3 linked regions of the Homo sapiens genome follow. The protein of the gene in region 2 purifies or fractionates together with the protein of the main gene of each other region. This does not show direct contact. Each region holds a gene or a part of one and is shown on either strand. Other genes may lie near its edges.

Region 1 (7,000 bases), on a different chromosome or scaffold from region 2:
GATCAATATAATCAAATTGCCCTTCTTAAATGTTACACCAGTTATATTCCTGTCACCAATGTATGAGAGTGCATATTTTCCTATAGCCTTGCCAACACAATATGTTGTATTTTTTTATCTTTGCCAATTTGATAGATGAAAAATGGTATCTTAGATTGGTTTTAATTTGCATTACAAATAAAGCTAACCATTTTTTCGTATGTTTGTCACTTATGTATCCCTTTCTGTTAACTATATTCTTCGCCCATTTTTCTTTTGGATTCAAGATCAATTACTGATTAATTTGTAAAAGCTCTTTACATATTAGGAAAATTAGCCCTATGTTTTTTATGAGTTCCAAATGTATACCTTTTTTTTAAATAAAATGACTTGGTGGCAAAGAGTTTTTTTACTAAATGAAATTTTTGCTAATTTATCTGTCATCAAGATTGATATCACAGTTCAGTGCCATCCTGTAGGATTTGCAAGACTTTGCTCTAATTTACTGAGCTAAAAAGACTTGACTCTATCAGTGTCATGCTTTTCTAATCAAAATAGAGGACATGGCCGGGCACGGTGGCTCACGCCTATAATCCTAGCACTTCGGGAGGCCAAGGCAGGTGGATTGCCAGAGCTCAGGAGTTTGAGGCCAGCCTGGGCAACACAGTGAAACCCCGTCTCTACTAAAATAGAAAAAATTAGCCAGGCATGGTGGTGCACGCCTATAGTCCCAGCTACTCAGGTGGCTGAGGCAGGAGAATCACTTGAACCAGGAAGAGGTAGGTTGCAGTGAGCCGAGATCGCACCACTGCACTCCCACCTAGGCAACAGAGCAAGACTCCATCTCAAGAAAAAAATGGAGGACATAAAGTAAGGTTTGTAATGTCACATATGAACTCATTTCAAATTTGTTCAGAGCTCAACAGTCCCCAGTCTAACTTTGTTGTTTTAATTTAAAATATTTTTTGATTTAGTTGTAAGGTGGTTGGATTGACAAACCAGAAACCTGTAGCTTTGTAATTTCTTTTAAGTTACAGTTAGGTCAAATTCCACTTGCTTCAAAAATAGAAGACTTAGGTGGGGCATGGTGGCTTACACCTGTAATCGCAGCACTTTGGGCAGGAGAATTGCTCAAGTCCAGGAGATTGAGGCAGCAGTGAGCAGTGATCATGCCATTGCACTCCAGCCTGGGTGACAGAGCAAGATCCTGTCTCAAAAAAACAAAAAACAAAAAAAGCCAGATGAATTTGAATAGTGATGTTGTCAATGTTACTGTTTTTGTAGGTATGCTGTAAGCATCATGTGGGAACTGGATAAAGCCTCTTATGAAATTAAGAAAGTGTGGTATGGCAGAACCATTATTCGATCAGCATACAAACTGTTCTATGAAGCAGCCCAAGAACTACTGGATGGAAACTTAAGCGTTGTTGATGATATTCCAGAATTCAAAGACTTGGATGAGAAGAGCAGACAAGCCAAGCTGGAGGAGTTGGTGTGGGCAATTGGAAAGCTGACCGACATAGCTCGCCATGTCAGAGCTAAACGAGACGGATGTGGTGCCCTGGAACTGGAAGGGGTAGAGGTTTGCGTACAGCTAGATGACAAAAAGAACATTCACGACCTCATCCCCAAGCAGCCCCTGGAAGTCCACGAGACAGTGGCTGAATGCATGATCCTGGCCAACCACTGGGTCGCCAAAAAGATCTGGGAGAGCTTCCCTCATCAGGCCTTGCTGCGCCAGCACCCTCCTCCACACCAGGAGTTCTTTTCAGAACTCCGGGAATGTGCTAAAGCCAAAGGCTTCTTCATAGATACACGGTATTCCTCTTTTGAGGGGGCAGAGGAATGGAGTGGCATGCTGTATATTTAGTTATCTTACAGTTGTTCTTAAAATGTGACAGCCAGATCTTTGACCAAAAAGAGAAAACAGATTCTTGGCTCTCCTCATTTTTGAAGACACATTTTTCCCTCTTCATTGTTATGTATAGAGACTTAAAACAAGTTTATTTAGGCATAATTTTGTTCCTTGGTTTTTTGTTTCAATTTTTTTTTAGATAGAGTCTTGCTCTGTCACCCAGGTTGGAGTACAGTGGTATGATCTCGGCTCACTGCAACCACCACCTCCCAGGTTCAAGTGACTCTCCTGCCTCAGGTTCCTGAGTAGCTGGGACTACAGGCACACGCCACCATGCCTGGCTAATTTTTTTGTATTTTTAGTAGAGACAGGGTTTCGCCATGTTGGCTAGGCTGGTCTTGAACTCCTGACCTCAAGTGATCCACCTGCCTCGGCCTCCCAAACTGCTGGGATTATAGGCATGAGCCACCACACTGGACATTTAGGCATAATTTTGACCCACTACAATTTGGGTTTTTTTGTTCGGTTGGTTTTTTTTTTTTCTTTGAGATAGAGTCTCGCTCTGTCATCCAGGCTGGAGTGCAGTGGCACAATCTTGGCTCACTGCAACCTCCGCCTCCCAGGTTCAAGCGATTCTCTTGACTCAGCCTCCTGAGTATATGGGATTACAAGCATGTGCCACCACGCCTGGCTAATTTTTGTATTTTTAGTAGAGACAGGGTTTCACCATGTTGGTCAGGTTGGTCTCAAACTCCTGACCTCATGATTCGCCCGTCTCGGTCTCCCAAAGTGCTGGGATTATAGGCATGAGCCACTGTGTGTGGCTGACCCACCATAATTTGTAATACAGAAGTAGGGAACCTGTTAGTTACCCTTGATTTAATTTCATGTACCCCTTAAGTTACAAAGAAATAATCCTATTTATTTCAGTACTTTTAAAATGCAGCATCTTTGTGACAATATCATAAGATACTACACCAACAGTGAATTTATACCACCCTCAATTGAGTGAGACATTTTTACTCCCTATCTCTAGGATAAAATACTTCTTTCATTAAAAACCAAGTATAGGCAGGCTGGGCACAGTGGCTCATGCCTGTAATCCCAGTACTTTGGGAGGCCGAGGCGGGCAGATCACGAGGTCAGGAGATCGAGACCATTCTGGCTAACACGGTGAAACCCCATCTCCACTAAAAATACAAAAAATTAGCCAGGTGCTGTAATCCCAGCTACTTGGGAGGTTGAGGCAGGAGAATGGCATGAACCCGGGAGGCGGAGGTTGCAGTGACCCAAAATCGCACCACTGCACTCCAGCCTGGGTGACAGAGCGAGACTCTGTCTCAAAAATAAATAAATAAATAAATAAAAACTAAGTATAGGCTGGGTACAGTGGCTCACACCTGTAATCCTAGCACTTTGGGAGGCTGAGGCAGGCACATCACTGAGGTCAGGAGTTCAAGACCAGCCTTGCCAACATGATGAAACTCTCTCTGCTAAAAATACAACGAGCCAGGCATGGCGCACTCTTGTAATCCCAGCTACTCAGAGGCTGAGGTGCGAGAATCGCTTGAACCTGGGAGGCAGAAGTTGCAGTGAGCCAAGATTGTGCCACTACACTCCAGCCTCTGTATGGTCACTGTATGAGCTGTCTGCATGCCAGGCACATGGGACAAGGGCTTTCAGACATCCTCTTGGTTAATTCTTAATGCTGAGGTGATGGCAGCATCATTCATATTTACAGATAAGTCAATTAAGTCTGAAGAGATTAAGTAATTTGCCTGTAATTTAACAGTCAGGGCAGAGCCAAGATTTGAATCCAAGTCTGTTAAACTTGCAAGCTCACATAGTGACCACTTAACACCTTGCCTCTCTGTTCATCATCATGCTCTATTTCTCCTTTCCCCCTTTTCCCTTAGCCAGCCACAATATAGGACTGAATTATATGTTATTAGTTTTATTTTTAATATACCTCTATATTTCCTGGGGCTTTGAAATTATTATTTTGAGGCTGTATGCAGTGGCTCACACCTGTAACCCCAGCACTTTGGGAGGCCGAGGCAGGAGGATCACTGAAGGCCAGGAGTTCAAGACTAGCCTGGGCAACAAAGTGAGACCCTGTCTCTACAAAAAAATTATTTTGAGAATAAATAAATAGAATGCTTACTACCTCTTTAAAAAAGAAAAACTAATTTAGGTTTCTTTTACTTGTACACCAAGTCCATTATTTTACCTATATATAGAATGTTTAAGGTTAAGGATGTAAAGAATTCAATTCAACGAGTATTTGACCACCTATTATAGCCAAGCACTAACTTAACCTAGTATTAAAATCAGTACATGATTCATTTCTACTTAAGAAATGTATTTAAATTCTGACACTCTTGTTTTGTTTAAGCCGTAAAGCAAACTAGATTTCTGTAGTTGAAAAGAGGTGCTTCTGAAACGTGTCCAAAACAAATTTACTGGCAGATGAAGGTATTCAGACGGATGAGTGAAGGGTTCCCCTCAAAGTGTTGTCTTGTAAATTACTGTCTGGGACTAGCTAACGGTTTTTCTGTTCTTTGTCAGGTCCAATAAAACACTGGCTGATTCTCTGGATAATGCGAACGACCCCCACGATCCCATTGTGAACAGGCTACTGCGCTCCATGGCCACGCAGGCCATGTCGAATGCTCTGTACTTCTCCACCGGATCCTGTGCGGAGGAGGAGTTCCATCATTACGGTGAATCATACCATATTCCTATGTGTGGCTGTAACTTTGCGCTAGTTATTTTAAAATAGTTTTTGTTTATTTTGATCTTTTGCTTTCTTTTTGAAGGTCTTGCATTAGATAAATATACCCACTTTACTTCTCCAATAAGAAGATATTCAGATATTGTAGTACACCGCTTGTTAATGGCAGCCATTTCAAAAGATAAGAAAATGGAAATTAAGGGAAATCTGTTCAGCAACAAAGATCTTGAGGAATTATGCAGACATATCAACAACAGAAACCAAGTAAGAGGGAATTTCAAAATTCTCTTACCTGTCATCTCTTGCTAAGAAAATATCAGCTTTATTGTGTAGTACCGTGAAGTATCATATATTCTAGCAAATTAAATTCTAGAATTATTCTAACCAGTGCTTTCAGAACATTTGTAGATGTTCTCAGGTAACTTGTGGATTTGGGAGATTTGACGGTAGATTATCAGATTTTTTTTTTTCCGAAAGGTGGAAATGTAAAGATTCAAGCAACGCATAAAGATATGATGACAGAGGCCAGACGTGGTGGCTCACTTGAGGGCGGATCACTTGAGGTCAGGAATTTGAGACCAGCCTGGCCAATATGGTGAAACCCCATCTCTACAAAAAATACAAAAATTAGCCGGGTGTGATGGCACGCGCCTGTAGTCCCAGTTACTTGGGAGGCTGAGGCAGGAGAATCTCTTGAACCCAGGAGGTGGAGATTGCAGTGGGCCGAGATCACACCACTGCACTCTAGCCTGGGTGACAAAATTGAGACTGTGTCTCAAAAAAAAAAAAAGATATGAAGACAGAAACATCACCTGTTATCTTACCACCCAGAGCTAACAATTAATGATTCTAGACACTGCTAACATTTTTATTTATAAAAATATCGGCCAGATGCGGTGGCTTGCACCTGTATTCCCAGTACTTTGGGAGGCTGAGGCAGGTGGATCACGAGGTCAGGAGATCGAGACCATCCGGGCTAACACAGTGAAACCCCATCTCTACTAAAAATACAAAAAATTAGCATGGTGGCAGGCGCCTGTAGTCCCAGCTACTCAGGAGGCTGAGGCAGGAGAATGGTGTGAACCCGGGAGGCGGAGCTTGCAGTGAGCTGAGATTGCACCACTGCACTCTGGCCTGGGTGACAGAGCGAAACTCCGTCTAAAAAAAAAAAATCACACCGTGCCTGCTGTTTGAATCTGCTTTTTTCATGTAACCCAACTGTTATTGATAGCACACCATGTTATATCATTGTTTTGAAGCTGCTTTCTATTCTATTTCATATTACTAGTTGCTACAAGATTGCACAGCATAGAACTAGACTATTGGGTAACGCAGGAAATTGGAAACTACCTAAATGTTTAATGTAATTTTCTATATCCAATGGTATAGTTGTCTGCTGTGCAATGTTGTAGCACTAGCCATGTGGACTACCTAAATTTAATTAAAATTAGAAGTAGAAATTTGTCTCAGTAGAAATTTGGCCAGTGTCTCAGTCACACTGGCCACATTGTATAGCTCAGTGGCCACTTGTGGTTAGTGGCTACATATTAGGCAACACAGATAGAGAGCATTTCTATCATTGCAGAAAGTTCTGTTGGGCAGCACTGTTCTAAGCAATCAAATTTATAACCATCCTTATGGATACACTTATACAGACATTTCAGATGATTTCCTGGAAAAATTCCTAGAAATGGAATTGCTGAGCCAAAAGGTGTGCATGCACAAATGAAACTGATAGGTCAGGTGCAGTGGCTCACGACTGTAATCCTAGCACTTTTCGAGGTCGAGGCCGGTGGATCACCTGAGTTCAGGAGTTCCAGAGCAGCCTGGCCAACATGGTGAAACCCCGTTACTACTAAAAATACAAAAATTAGCCAGGCATGGTGGTGCATGCCTGTAATCCCAGCTAATCGGGCGGCTGAGGCAGGAGAATCACTTGAACCCGGGAGGCAGAGGTTGCAGGGAGCCAAGATCGCGCCATTGCACTCCAGCCTAGGCGATAGAGTGAGACTCCATCTCAAAAAGAAGACAAAGAAACTTTAATACATATTACTAAATTGTCTTCCTTATCAGTAGTGCTAATTTAGACTTCCACCAATAGGGTTTTCATTGGACAGGCTTGAAAAGAAAGAAAGGCTGGCCGGGCGCGGTGGCTCATGCCTGTAATCCCAGCACTTTGGGAGGCCGAGGCAGGCGGATCACGAGGTCAGGAGATCAAGACCATCCTGGCTAACACAGTGAAACCCCATTTCTACTAAAAATACAAAAAATTACCCGGGCGTGATGGCAGGCGCCTGTAGTCCCAGCTACTCCAGAGGCTGAGGCAGGAGAATGACGTGAACCCAGGAGGTAGAGCTTGCAGTGAGCCGAGATTGCACCACTGTACTCCAGCCTGGGTGACAGAGTGAGACTCCATATCTCAAAAAAAAAAA
Region 2 (7,108 bases):
CATGTGCTCATGTCTGAGCCTGTAGAAGCCTCCCTGTAAATGGGTACCAGACCAATAGTAAGTATATTCTGAGGTTTTCATCACAAGCCTTTGTTTGAAGTGTCTGCGAGAGTTATCTCATCAGCTTGGGAGACTTTGATTACAATTAGCCTCAAAAGGCTTCTGCAGGTTGCCTCTCTGCTTTGTACCCACCCCCAGCCCCTCAGCCAGGAACAGTGTCCCCTTTAGCAGCACTAAGCAGGCAAGGAACCCAGATATAGTGACTCCAACCACCAATGCAGGCTTGAAGATTCTGGTTCAATTTTAGTGAAAAATACAAGTGTTCACATTGAAAAATAGTTAAGATCCCAAAGGGAAGTGACAAGTGCGGAGTATTCTGAAACATTTATGAATGAAAAATGTTCTCCTAAACTCCCCTAGTTAAAAACCCAAGCCTCTCTAAGAGGTTAAACCACAGTCCTAAACCCATCAACACAATGGTCGGAGAACTGAGAAGCAACTTGATGGCTCGCCGCCTAGTGGCAGCGCAGGGTGACACACCAGCTCACTAAAATCTTCCCTTCCTTTGGGCTTTAGATAGAAACCACCTTTTCCTAAAGTTTCCAAATTCTCATTTAAAATAGCCTACTCTCAGCTACAACCAGCAAACCAAAGACATGAAAAGGTCAGATTTTGCTCCCAGTTTAGTGACAGTGCTGCCAGGCATCTCTGGAACAGGGCTCAGGGTCAGTGCAGCAGTCTTTCCAAAGGGCTGTGAGGGCTATATCAAAGATTTTTCGTCATTCCCAAGAAACAGGGTAAATTATGGAGGTGGCGACAGTGTCTATCTTGGCTCCATGTATTATCATCCCAAGTAGACAAAACCAAGTGAAATGGGTTGGCAGAAAATCAATTAGTTTTCTGAGACCTCTCTACCCCTGGCAATTTAATTAAAACTGGAAGTTGCTAACAAGAAGTTAAATCAAACTAGACTCAGAGCAGCAGAAGAAACCCTCACCACCATCACCACCACCATCACCACCAATTTATTTCCTTCCACTGGGCAGCAACTATGTTTCAGCCTGTGGATAGGCAAATGCCTTGAGCTCTCCAGCAGAGGCCCTATGCCTGGAGTCCAGGTGGGAGTGGGTGTGTGGCACCCTTATTGCTGGGCACATCCACGGGTGTCCAGAAGCCATTCCTATTCACTGATTCAGAATAAAAGGACACACTTGTTTATGCAATTAAAATAATTATGCTCCTTGAAGACTCAATTGAGGTTCTGATACAGGTGGCAGCGATCAGTGCTTGGTAACCTCTCCCATCTCTGTAGGAAATGGGGTTTTGTGACTCTCTCATGGTGATTCTACTTGCCCGGCTGATTACATTAGCTGAGCCACTTAAAGAAGGTAAAGTGTGCCACTTTGAGACTGTCCATCTTGAGAAATCAATTCAGGAGAACTACCTAGATACTGGAGCTCTTGGGCCTGTGGGGATCCTTTTGAGACCCACAGAGGAGGAAAAGAGACCAGCAGGCAGCCACTCTAAGCCAGGAAAGATAGGCTACTTCTAGAAGCCAGATCTTGGGAAGAGGCAACTCAAAGAATCCTCTCACACTAGAGTCACTCATCCTTTACAGCTGGGACAAGAAAGGGATAAGAGCAGCAGGCTAACTTGGAGTCATATTTAGACACAGAGCCACAATGAAACGTATCCCCTATACCAAGCATCTGAGGGCAACACCCTCTCTTTGGTGTGGTTGGGCTGAATGTCTTTGGTCTGCCTAAAATGAATGAGGTAGAAGGTAATGAAGGAGATGAAAAAGAAAGCAAATTACAGTTCCTCACACATTGTCTGCTCCTCAGTGACTGCTTACTGCATTGAATTAGGCAGATCAAGGCCACCAGAGGCATTCTGCTTCCTCCAAGAACAAAGGAAAAGATAAGTTGGGGGCTTGAACAAGGTCACCATCATCCACAGTGACTTAAAGGATGGGCCAATTCCATGGGACAACTCAGGCTGGTGAGAGAAGATGAGCAGAACCAGGAGAGACGACTTGGGGGACCAGAGTAGGGGACAGGAATGGGCTGGAAAAAAAACTGACCAGAAAAATGAACATGGATAGTTCTTGGACTCCCCAAGAGCAGCCCTCCAAAGCTGGCTTCCATAGGCTGCATGAAGTAAAATGAGCAAAGATTCACAGGTTGGACAGACCTGAGCTGGCATTTTTAGCTTTGTAACCCTGGGGTAGTCACTTACTCTCTCTGAACTCATTTGTCATTTCTCTTATACGAGTACTATGAGAATCAGCTTCCGTGTATGGAAGTTCAGACTGGAAGACTGTAACTCACCCTACAAAAGTGGGTTAACATTTGTGCAAAAAAGGGCTGCCATTGCAGTCCAAAGGTGCTATTTTCAGAAGGGTCTGTTTGCAGGGTTGGCCCTTGGCTGGCATCCGGGAACCTGGCTCCCAGGCAATAGTAAACTGATGGGGGTAGTCCACTGTGCCTATATTGTGCAAATAATATGATTTATGCTGAACATTTGCTTTCCTTTAGAAAACTTCATTATGTATTAAGCATCGAGTGTCTATGTGACCAGCTCCCAGTAAAAATCTTGGGTGCTGAGTCTCTAATGGGCTTTCCTGGGCAGAAATGTCACAAATAAGTTACTGCATTTTCACTGCTGTAATAAACCTTAGCTGTGAGTATCACTATATGCTAAGTCTAGCAAATCTCTGAATGTGGAGGTGGTCTTGGGGATCTTGATACAGGGTCAACATTATATACCTACACCCAGCATGAGCCCACAGAGATCCTTACCCACTTCAAGAAGGCCTGGCTTCCAGAAGCAAAGTAATTGATAGAAGACGGGACCTGGCCAGCAACCAAATAAAAAGCCCCGACCCCTAGAATGTGGAGCTAATAATACTTATTGAACTTATTGACAAAATAAGGAGAAATAACACTTATTGAAAGCCCACTGGAAGTCAGTCACTGTGCTAGGTACTCACTCTATTCATTTCCTCTTCATCACCATGGTATTATTTATTATCCTCATTTTTTAGATGAAGAAATTTGGCCACAGTGAGACTGAGTAACCAGCCTGAGATCACAAAGCTGGCCAGAGAAGGAAGTGACATTCTGGCCCAAGGCTGGCTGCAGACACTGCAGAGCCCTCTCTCTTCTCAGCACCCATACTGCCTGCCTAGCTGCCACTTCCTCAGCCTGTCAGGCTGCTTGGCTGACCCTAGGCTTCATCTGTCAAGCAAATCATGAACAGTTTTCTGCAGAACTAGAGTAGGAAGAGAAACAGCACATTTTAGACCAAATGATCCTTACTGTGTATATTTTTCAAAGCACCATAACACAATCATTTCATTTGACCCTCATCACAATCATGTGCTAGGCTGCCTGGCAAATGTCCTCCTTTATCGGACAGGGAAAACAAGGCCAGCAATAGCCAGGTGGTTAAGACTAGGGCAGGACTCAAGCCAAGAGTCCTGACTATGTACCTGGCACATAGGAGGAGGTCAGCAAATGCCTGCTGGATGGCTGAATGATAAGTATAAAAGTGGGTTCAACAGCAAACCAGAGGTTCATTTTCTGAATCTTCATCTTTAAAATCATTTATCTTTAGAAATATCTGCATAGACAGTACTGACCAGTCAACAAAGAACTCCAAGTAGCCTTCATTTGGTTTCTCCAGCTTCGGCGTCCCCATTTCTGCTTTCACTCCCACCAAGATGTCTGTGTGACCCTGCAGACACATGCAAGAAGAGTCCTCACTCAGAGTATGCAGCCAGGTACTCCACCACCTCCCTCCTCTTCTGGACATACACCCCTGGGGGACTCTTTTAGGAGCAGTGCTAAGACTTGGAAAGTGGTCTTTGGAGGAGGTGAGCAGTCTTTTCAGATCTGGATAGACCCCCCCTCCCTGAGTTTGGCTCGGATCTTCGATTTCCCCAAGAGCAATTTGCATTCCAAAAGCCAGACAGCGTCAGCAGCTCATTCCTTAGGGCCTACTCATTTCTCCACCTGGGCTTGAACCATGGTCACAGTACTCACCAGCTTGACCCTGGCGGACCCACTAGTGTTGGACACCACATCAGTTTCCACTTCGACACATCGGTAGTCCTCACAGCCACGGCCATCCACACGGAGGTCTTCCTAGGTGTTAACAACCACAGTCCTATAGTCACCCCAGATCAACAATAACTCCTAAACGGACTCACCCATTTTCCCCCTAGAGAAGATATATGCAGAATATCTCTTTTCCTCTTAGTGGATCATCTAAAATTCTGTCCTTGTAGCTAACAACAACATTACTATTTTACATATGAGGAAATGGAGACTCAGAGAAGTTGAGCGACTTGTCCAAGGTCCTACAGCTAGTGAAAACAAAGCTAGTTTTCCATGCCAGTTGTGTCTGATTGCAAAATCTATACTACATACCACTATATAGAATATGCACACAAAAACAAGATCTGAACAAGAGACAAAATAAGCCACCTCTCTCTAAATCTGCAATTCTTAAATTGCACCAAGAAGTATATGTTGTCAGAGCTACAGAGTACAATCATCTCAACTGAAGCCCTCCTACCCCTAAAACTCAACAAGATCTACTGTGTAAATAGTGAAAGACACCTAATCTTCTAAAGAGGCAGTCTCTAGAACAGGGTCAACAAACTAAGGTCCCTTGTTTTTGTAAATAAGTTTTACTGGAACATAGCCATGCCCACTTGTTTAGGTAATGTCTATGATTGTTTCTGCACTACAAAAGCAGAGCTGAGTGGTTGGGCCAGAGATATGACCCATAAGGCCCCAAATCTTTACTATCCAGTCCTTTACAGGAAGTTTGCTGACTCTTTTGGCAGAAGATGGTTTTCAGGGTGGTCTACGCGCTGCCTGTTCCTTCTGCCCATTTATTTACTCCTTCAATTACTTGTATCAGTACAACTCATTGGTATCTTTTATGCTATGGTTATAATCCACTACTATCATTAGTTATTTTGCTGCTCAAAGTGTTCCAAATTTGGCCACTGGGGGCTTCTTTGGGTTAGTTTTTGTGCTCTTTCAACATGCCTCCAACTTTTTGAGTAATTATCTACTTTCTGCAACACAAGATATCTATCCTCTTGTGTCTTCTCTGCCCAGCCCTAGGGATCAAGCCTTTCTCCAAGGAGCCCTGGTTGCTTTTATTGGGGAATGGTACTTAAAACCAGGAACTAGGCTCTAAGTTCATTGCTGTTGGAGTATTATTTCTTCCAGAACTTCTCAGCAGACAGAGCTAGAAAATACAGTTATGTATACTAACCACCCCCACCACACACACACAAATCTGTTTAATTCTGTATCTATCTACATATCTATTAAAAAGCCAAGAGTTCATACTGATAGATCAATTCCAATCTAACATCACATGGTTCATTCTAACCTTCCTCTGTTTCTTATTTGTAACTTCTTTCTCAAAGAAGGAGAAAGCTGGCTCTTATTATCTAACATGTATTTCTGTATTTGTTCAATCTTAGTATACACAGTTTCTGAACTTCTAACCCATACCCCTGTGAGAAACAAATTTACTAATAGCACACAGTATTTGTGTAAAGTTCTGTCTTTAGCCTCAGAGTATCCAGGCAAAATACTGTTTTCCAGTTACTTCAGTTCTTTTCTTCTACGTGCCCTTCAGTGTGGTTACATTACTCACTTGTAACACAGGCTCATTTGTAACTTGTAACTTTTTTTTTAGACTATGGCTCTGTCGCCCAGGCTGGAGTGCAGTGTGGCACAGCTCACTGCAACCTCCGCCACCTGCGTTCAAGCGCTTCTCCCGCCTCAGCCTCTGAAGTAGCTGGAATTACAGGCACATCACCATGCCTGGCTAATTTTCATTTGTAAATTTTTGTTTTCCATTTTGGGTTCCCCCACATCATGGTTACTTTTAATTACTTATTTACTTTCTGAGTTTGTGAGCTATCACTATAGTTCTGAGAGAAAACTCAGAAAAGTATGCTCAGAGAAATGTCACTCTCCTCCGTATTATGCTATTTTCATGCCCCTTTCTTCCCATTCACCCTAGGTTTCTCTTCAGTTTCAGGTTTATCTTTCTTGTATTTTCTCTGCACAAATAAGCAAATACATGAATTTTTTAATATCTCCTTGTTTCTTATATGAAGGGTGGAATACTATAGATACTCTTACTTTTTTTTTTTTTTTTAACACTTAACTATATATATGCAGGAAATCATTCCACGTTGGCTCATGGAGCTCCTTCTCATTCTTTGTAAACATTTTTCAAAAGCAGTTTTTTTCAGAAAAAGAATCATTAGCTTAATCAGATTCTCCAAGGAGTTGATGCTTCCCAGAAACATAAAAAATAAAATAAAACACTGCTCTAAAGTATGTGACTGACAGTTTATCTTTAAACTGCCTGGCTAACTGCATATGTGACTGACTTTTTTGAGAAATTAAACAGAAAAAAGCAAAACACTGCAGCACCACACAGTACCAATGATCACCCTCTGCCATACTTGCTTCAGGTCTTTCACCCGTTTAACTTTTCAATGACAGAAAATAAACATCACAAATCAGGTGGAAGGTCCTGTGCAGCCCATCCTTCCCCCAGCACCTTTCCTCCCTGGAAGATATTGAGAGGTGACAGCGTGCTGGCAGCCCTCACAGCCCTCGCTTGCTCTCGGCACCTCCTCTGCCTGGGCTCCCACTTTGGCAGCACTTGAGGAGCCCTTCAGCCCGCCGCTGCACTGCGGGAGCCCCTTTCTGGGCTGGCCAAGGTGGGAGCCGGCTCCCTCAGCTTGCTGGGAGGTGTGGAGGGAGAGGCGTGGGTGGGAACCAGGGCTGCGGGCAGTGCTTGCGGGCCAGCGCGAGTTCTGGGTGGGCATGGGCTCAGCGGGTGGGTGTGGGCTAGGCGGGCCCCATACTCTGGAGCAGCCAGCTGGCCCCAGGCAGTGAGGGGCTTAGCACCTGGGCCAGCAGCTGCTGTGCTCAATTTCTTGCTGGGCCTTAGCTGCCTTCCCACGGGGCAGGGCTCCGGATCTGCAGCCTGCCATGCGGGAGCCTCCCCGCCCTCCCACCCCCACCCATGGGTGCTCCTGTGTGGCCCCAACCTCCCC
Region 3 (7,034 bases), on a different chromosome or scaffold from region 2:
CGCCTATAAATCCCAGCACTTTGGGAGTCTAAGGAAGGAGGATCTCTTGAAGCTACAAGTTCAAGATCAGCCTGGGCAACATAGCAAGACTTCGTCTCCCCAAAAAAAAATTTTTTTAAATAAATTTAATAAAAATTTTTTTTAATTAAAAAAATTTAAAAACCATCCACATTGGCTGGGCACGGTGGCTCATGCCTGTAATCCCAGCACTTTGGGAGGCCGAGGTGGGCGGATCACGGAGTCAGGAGATCGAGACCATCCTGGCTAACATGATGAAACCCTGTCTCTACTAAAAATATAAAAAATTAGCCGGGCGTGGTGGCGGGCGCCTGTAGTCCCAGCTACTCGGGAGACTGAGGCCGAATGGCGTGAACCCGGGAGGCGGAGCTTGCAGTGAGCCGAGATCACACCACTGCACTCCAGCCTGGGCGACAGAGCGAGACTCTGTCTCAAAAATAAATAAATAAATAAATAAAAACCATACACATATATATGCTTAAATAGCCTTTCTGGCTTTTGGATTCAAAATAGACCACAAATCCATGGATTAAGAAACACCGTGGGCAGAGGTTTTCTAACCTTCTTGGAAGAACCATTTGCTGGCTTTTAAAAAGTTAAATATCTATATAATTTTCCTTTTTTTTTTTTTTTTGAAACGGAGTCTCGCTTTACCGCCCAGGATGGAGTGCAGTGGTGCAATCTCTGCTCACTACAACTCTGCCTCCCGAGTTCAATCGGTTCTCCTGCCTCAGCCTCCCGGGTAGCTGGAAATACAAGCACCCAACACCACGCCTGGCTAACTTTTTTATTTTTAGTAGAGACAAGGTTTCACCATGTTGGCCAAGCTGGTCTGGAACTCCTGATCTCAAGTGATCCACCGCCTCGGCCTCTCAAAGTGTTGGGATTACAGGCGTGAGCCACCACGCCTGGCGCCTACATGATTTTCTCCGAAACAATCCTGAAATACTCCTAACCCAACTTTTGGTTGCAGAAGTAAGGTTTTTCAGGGAACTAGCATCAGAAGCTGCTGTTTCTCACCTAAATGTACATTCCTTGCCCCTTTTACATCATGACATTTGAGAAAGACCTATTCTGGACCTAAGTGTTCTATAAAAGTAATTCTGATTGTCTTCCAAATAACTGTCATTACTTTTAAGTTTCATATATAATAACGAAATTAAAAATCATCACACTATGTGAATTACAACCAGTAATGAAAGTCTTTAAACAATTTTTGCAATGATCACAGATTAAGTCAAGATAGTGTTTTACAAACCCATTATAAAACAGGAAACCTTCGGATGATTGATTCCTCTGTATAAATGCTGAGTAAACTCAGTAATGTTTAAAACTGAGAATAAGGTTAGAAGTAGGAAAAATCTGGAATGTTACTATTTCCTTTCTCAACTTACCCGTAATCTCCACCCTCGCATACACATTCCTCCACTCTAACGTATTAAAATAAAAATGCTGATAAGTTTATCTTTCTCTCTCTGGCCCTCATTTAGTCAGCACGAAGTTACACAATGTGCAAAAGTGAACACAGATAGAAACGTAAAGGAGGTAAAGTGTTCCAAAAAGATCAAATGAATCAAAAAGCTCTGAAACAGACTTGGTAAAGACACCAGAGTTGTTTTTTTTTTACCCCTCCCCCCCCCACTTTAAAAGGCAGCAACCGGAATAAATCAAGATAAAAACAGAATCACAAAAATAGTGCAGGACTGTGCAGATTAAAACTTTACAATTTTCAACGTCAAACTGCAATATGATAAAGCAACAATATTACTTAAACTGTTTATGAATATTTTTTCTCTAACAATCCAAGTCAACTTCATATAAAACACAAAGTTTCTGTACCAGCAAAAATACAAATGCTAATGAAACTTGGGCTTCTAAGGTATTATTACAAATCAGACTTAACTGTCTTAGATTTCATAAGCTTAACCCAATCCACAGCACGTTAATATACCCAATGAAGCAGTCTTAAGAATAACGCTATAGTGTGACACATGGGGAATTACCAAAGAACAACTTAAAGTATACTGACACAGGGAGAAATAAGCGGTTCTGATGATTCAAAGTTACACTCGTCTCACAGACCTAGTAATGACGCTAAAGGGAACTTTAGTGACACACCCAGCGCCGACCGCCACGTTAAGGATACAGCTCTTCCGAGGTGGAGAGGGCTCTCGCCAGCTCTGACTGCTGCTGAACCCGGATCCTGCTCCTCCTCCCAGAGGAGGTCTGCACCCCGGCTTGCCTCCTCGCTCACCCACTCCTCGCCCCCGACTCCAGCGACTCCCACCCCGGTAAGGCCTGCCTCGAAAGCGGAAACGGTCCAAGGCGAGGTGGCTCCGCTCCCAGAAAGACGGCCGGGGACTGCTTTCGGACAGTGAGCTCGAAGGCATCCGTACAGAAGGCGGATGAGACCGGAACGGTTCTTTGGGTCGGTAGCTGCTGGGTCCCCTGAGGTGGCCCCGCTCAGACGCGTGCCGCGAGCGTGAGAAATTCCTCAGCTGCTGCTGAGAAGAGGACGATGACGAGGAAGAGCCACCGCCTCCGCCAGATCCACCGCCCCGGGCCGAGTGAGGAGGCCTTCGCCGCGGATAGGGTAACAGCCCGCCGCCGCTGCTGCTGCTGCTGCTCCGACTCCGTATCTGGCTGTTATTATCGTCGTCACTGATTTCCCCATCTTCAAGCTCCCCTTCTTCCTTCGGCGAGAGGCCACTGGAGGCCGGGGCCGGAGTATCTGCGGTCGCCATCCGGGGAGCAGCGCCTTCCACACAACCTTAGCCCTCCGTCCGGGGATCCGCCCGACAATTGCCTCGTTTCCCTTCTTTCCTAACGGACTGGGTCGGTGCGGTCTTACCCTACTCGGACACCAAGCGGCCTCTGCTCCCCAACTTCCCCGCACCCCAGCACCCCAGCTCTCTCTCGCCGGACCGTCGCAACCCAGTTCCCTTTCCTAGCGCCCCCTTGCTCCTCAGCGATCGGGGTTCTTCCGCCTCGCGAGAAAGGGACTCTGGTAGCGGCTGTACCCGAAACGTCACTTCCTGCGACACGCAGGAAACAAAGGCTCCCAGTTCACGCGATAATAAGACCAACTCGATACTCACTAGGATTTGTAGTCTTTCGTCTTTCTTCGGGTTTACTCTTCCGGTCCTAGGGTCACACCCACCGCAGGGTCTGGCTTGGTACAGTTGGGTGCATGCAGAAGTAGGTGGAGCTGCTGTTGCAGCCTTGAGAGAGTTTTATTGTAAAACTCTTGTAATTTATAGTAATCGGAGGGGAAAACACCTCTTCCTTTTAATTGCTCTGAGGACCGCTGCCAAAGAAACGCAGTAGATCCGCTCCCTCTTGGGGGCGGGGAGAAAGAACGGGTTGTGTCCGCCATGTTGGTGAAGTCAAGCGAAGGCGACTAGAGCTCCAGGAGGGCCAGTTCTGTGGGCTCTAGTCGGCCATATTAATAAAGAGAAAGGGAAGGCTGACCGTCCTTCGCCTCCGCCCCCACATACACACCCCTTCTTCCCACTCCGCTCTCACGACTAAGCTCTCACGATTAAGGCACGCCTGCCTCGATTGTCCAGCCTCTGCCAGAAGAAAGCTTAGCAGCCAGCGCCTCAGTAGAGACCTAAGGGCGCTGAATGAGTGGGAAAGGGAAATGCCGACCAATTGCGCTGCGGCGGGCTGTGCCACTACCTACAACAAGCACATTAACATCAGCTTCCACAGGTAACCTGGGCAGGGAGTGGGGGTGACGGAAACTGGAGTTCCTATTGTGGCTATCGCTTGTGTGGAAGGAACAGGAGGATTCTGCTAATTCTAATAACTTTCCCAGCTGGTAGCAGGGAAGCATCGTATGTCCTTTGTGTTTCTCAAATCTGCCCAATTGTTCTCTGCTTTCGGGGAAGCTTTACTCATTTTCTAAAAGAAATCCAAGTACTGTTTGGTCATTACCCCTTAGTAAAAAAAAGTAACAGGAGGATATCGTAATTTTCTACTGTTTTATTCCTCTGTTAGACCGGGCCTTGACATGAATGACGCCGTAAGGGAGAAAGAGATCTTCCCAATCAGCAATCACCGTAAAAGCCTGCTGTGTTCCCGTTAAAATTAGGAAATTCTCACTAGATGAATTGACATGGGAGGCATTTAGATTTCTAATAGTCACATAGTAATTCTGCGGAGGAATTGAGTCATCTTTGATAGCCATGGAATTAAGCGATGTTAATTAAAGTGCAAAAGATAACCTTTCTGTTCTTACTAGAATAGAGTAATAAAAAGAACCTAGGTTTTCTTTTGTTTGCTGGAAGAAAAATCAAAATTCTTTAGTTCTGTCAAACCAGAACTCTTGAAAGCACTTTGAACAATGCCTGGAAAATAACAGGTACTCTGTAAATGTTTACCTTCTCTGCAAGTGCCTGCCACGTGCCCGAAGAAAAGACACATTAAAAAGTTAAGTGACACCAGTCCTGATTTTATATATTTTATATACCTAACAACGTATATGTTAGTATGTAGAAATTATATCCTTGACCTTTTTCCCTACCTATTACGAACTGTACTTTTATTAAAAGCTGCCACTTAAAAAAAATCTTGTGATGTTTCTGTTTTTAAACTAGTTCATGCATATGTAGTGCTTTGTTCATTCATCCATCAAATATGTACGGAGTTCCTAATTACCTGACATTGTGCTAAGGATCCAGAAAGTTCTAACCCTCCTGGAATTTAGAATTTAATGGTGGAGAAAGACATAAATAATTAAGTGCCACAGAAGAAACATTCAGAGACCTAACTTAGTCTTGGAAAGTCAAAGAACACTTTTTCAAAGGATGTGACATTTCAAATGAGACCAAAGGATGACAGATTGGGTCCTGTGTGCTACTTAAGTATTTTCTGTTTTATCCTAAGAGTACTTGAGAAACCATGGAGGGTTTAAAAAAGAATGGCACGATTAGATTTGCATATTGAAAAGTCCTCTGGCTGCAGTGTAGAGAATCGTAGTGTTACTGAAAGTGCTGGTCAAGCATCATCGGGAATGAACTTGATGAGAAAGGAACTTATTACAGAATATTAATTTACCTATTTTTTTCCTTCACAGGGAAATCTTGCTACAATGTCAACTAAACTAAACCCTTTACTCAGTTGCTGGCACAATCAGCATTGAATTAGGGAATGTGTGAGCTGACAGAGAAAAACTAGTTAGGAAGCTGTAGTAAATAAAACAAGGAAAGTCCACCCAAATTTCTAGACTAGGGTGATATTAGAGTAGAAATGGAGAGGAGGGGACAGATTGGAGAAATGTTCAAGGAGAAACTACTGAATTTAGTAATTTGATTGGATAGATGAGAGAGGGGAGTCCAGACACCAATAACAATGTTTAACCCAGTGTGGTGGCTCACACCTGTAATCCCAGCACTTCGAGAGGCCAGGGCGGGCTGATCACTTGAGCCCAGGAGTTTGAGACCAGCCTAGGCAACATGGTGAAACCTCGTCTCTACAAAAAAATACAAAAAAATCAGCTGGCCCTGGTGACGCATGCCTGTAGTCCCAGCTACTCCGGAGGCTGAGGTGGGAGGACTACCTGAACTGGGGAAGTTAAGGCTGCACTGAGCCATAATCATGCCACTGTACTCCAGCCTGGGCAATACAGTGAGACCCTGTCTCAAGAAAAAACAAAAAACAAAACAAAAAAAAAGAGATGGATGGTGGTACAATAACATGCATAAAATTTGCCTACTATGAATTTAACATTTTCATGTGTAACCTCAGAAATTTAGGTCTTAAAATAGTATTCATTATAATAAAAATACATTCCTATTTTGTAAATACAAACAAGGATTAATTGATTCACTCCTTTTCTACTGGGACATTAGTAGACTTTTTTTTCTTTTTCTTTTTCTTTTTGAGACAGAGTCTCATTCTGTCACCCAGGCTGGAGTGCAATGGTGTGATCTTCGCTCACTGCAACCTCCACCTCCTGGGTTCCAGCAATTCTCCTGCCTCAGCCTCCCGAATAGCTGGGACTACAGGCATGCCCACATGCCTGGCTAATTTTTATATTTTTTAGAAGAGATGGGGTTTCACCATATTGGCCAGGCTGGTCTCGAACTCCTGACCTTGTGATCCACCTGCCTCGGCCTCCCAAAGTGTTGGGATTACAGGCGTAAGCCACCACGCCTGGCCATTAGTAGACTTCTGTATCTCTATGTGCAAGTTATTTTGCCTAAACTTACTGTCTCTATCTTTCTTACCTCTTAGCCAACTCAAGTCTTAAGTCTCCCCAGTAATCTTCTGAAATTGCTCTTGCTAACATGACCTTAATGTCTCTCTACATTCATTTTTCATGGTATGTGATCATTTCCTCCATGAAATACTCTCTATGACACTAATTTTATGATTATCTTCTGACTTTTTTGGCCTGTCTTCAATCTCTTTTGCTACTCTTCTCTCTACTCCTTAAGCCAGGTCTTCACATTCGTATCAGAATAATTTCAGCTGTTCTGTGGTCTCAGCATCTACTTGTTGATGCCTCCCAAATCAGTATCTCCAGTCCATCTCTGTCTAATGAGTTCCAGACCTATAGGCCAAGTGTCTACTCAGTATTTCTCTGGTCTCCTTTTAGTTACCCAGATTCATTATCTATATTAACAAACTGCCCTTCCCCAAACTTACCCCCACTTCCTGTACTCTGCTTCTCAGTAAATGAAGATCTACCCATCTGGAAACTTGGAAGTCTTCCTCCCTTGACTTCTCACCATTACCCCTTGATTAGATTATTACAGTAGGCTCTTAACTGGCTCACTGCTTCCATCCATGCACTCCTAGGCACTCTTCTGTAATCAATAGTATGTTGCTAAATATTTAATAAATGTTCTCTAGGGAGGGGGAAAAGCCCTGATTTGTAGTGTTTCCCCACCTTCTATGATGTAAATACTACTACCAAGTCTAGTTTCAAGCTATCAATATGACATCACTGATTATGGAGTTGGAAAGAGATGTGCAGTTTCACACTATTTTAGTATTTCCACCATACA

Evidence for each region. Proteins that work in one complex are often made in the same cells at the same time.
Region 1: the proteins of EXOSC7 (region 2) and DIS3L purify together in Homo sapiens (affinity purification with mass spectrometry; 5 studies listed by BioGRID and IntAct, with this or other methods). This does not show direct contact.
Region 3: the proteins of EXOSC7 (region 2) and ZFC3H1 purify together in Homo sapiens (affinity purification with mass spectrometry; 3 studies listed by BioGRID and IntAct, with this or other methods). This does not show direct contact.

The regions. Positions count from the first base shown.
Region 1 is NC_000015.10:66,324,568-66,331,567, forward strand, and holds part of DIS3L (DIS3-like exonuclease 1), read left to right. Parts: intron 1-1,263; coding exon 1,264-1,797; intron 1,798-4,402; coding exon 4,403-4,557; intron 4,558-4,653; coding exon 4,654-4,832; intron 4,833-5,045; coding exon of another isoform or gene 5,046-5,057; exon of another isoform or gene 5,058-7,000. UniProt on the Homo sapiens protein: Catalytic component of the RNA exosome complex which has 3'->5' exoribonuclease activity and participates in a multitude of cellular RNA processing and degradation events.
Region 2 is NC_000003.12:44,986,180-44,993,287, reverse strand, and holds part of EXOSC7 (exosome complex component RRP42), read right to left. Parts: intron 4,149-7,108; coding exon 4,047-4,148; intron 3,739-4,046; coding exon 3,644-3,738; intron 1-3,643. UniProt on the Homo sapiens protein: Non-catalytic component of the RNA exosome complex which has 3'->5' exoribonuclease activity and participates in a multitude of cellular RNA processing and degradation events.
Region 3 is NC_000012.12:71,660,849-71,667,882, forward strand, and holds the start of ZFC3H1 (zinc finger C3H1 domain-containing protein), read right to left. Parts: upstream 3,001-7,034; 5' UTR 2,763-3,000; coding exon 2,165-2,762; intron 1,975-2,164; exon of another isoform or gene 1-1,974. Other genes in the region: THAP2 (THAP domain-containing protein 2), read left to right, coding at 3,662-3,732. UniProt on the Homo sapiens protein: Subunit of the trimeric poly(A) tail exosome targeting (PAXT) complex, a complex that directs a subset of long and polyadenylated poly(A) RNAs for exosomal degradation. The RNA exosome is fundamental for the degradation of RNA in eukaryotic nuclei.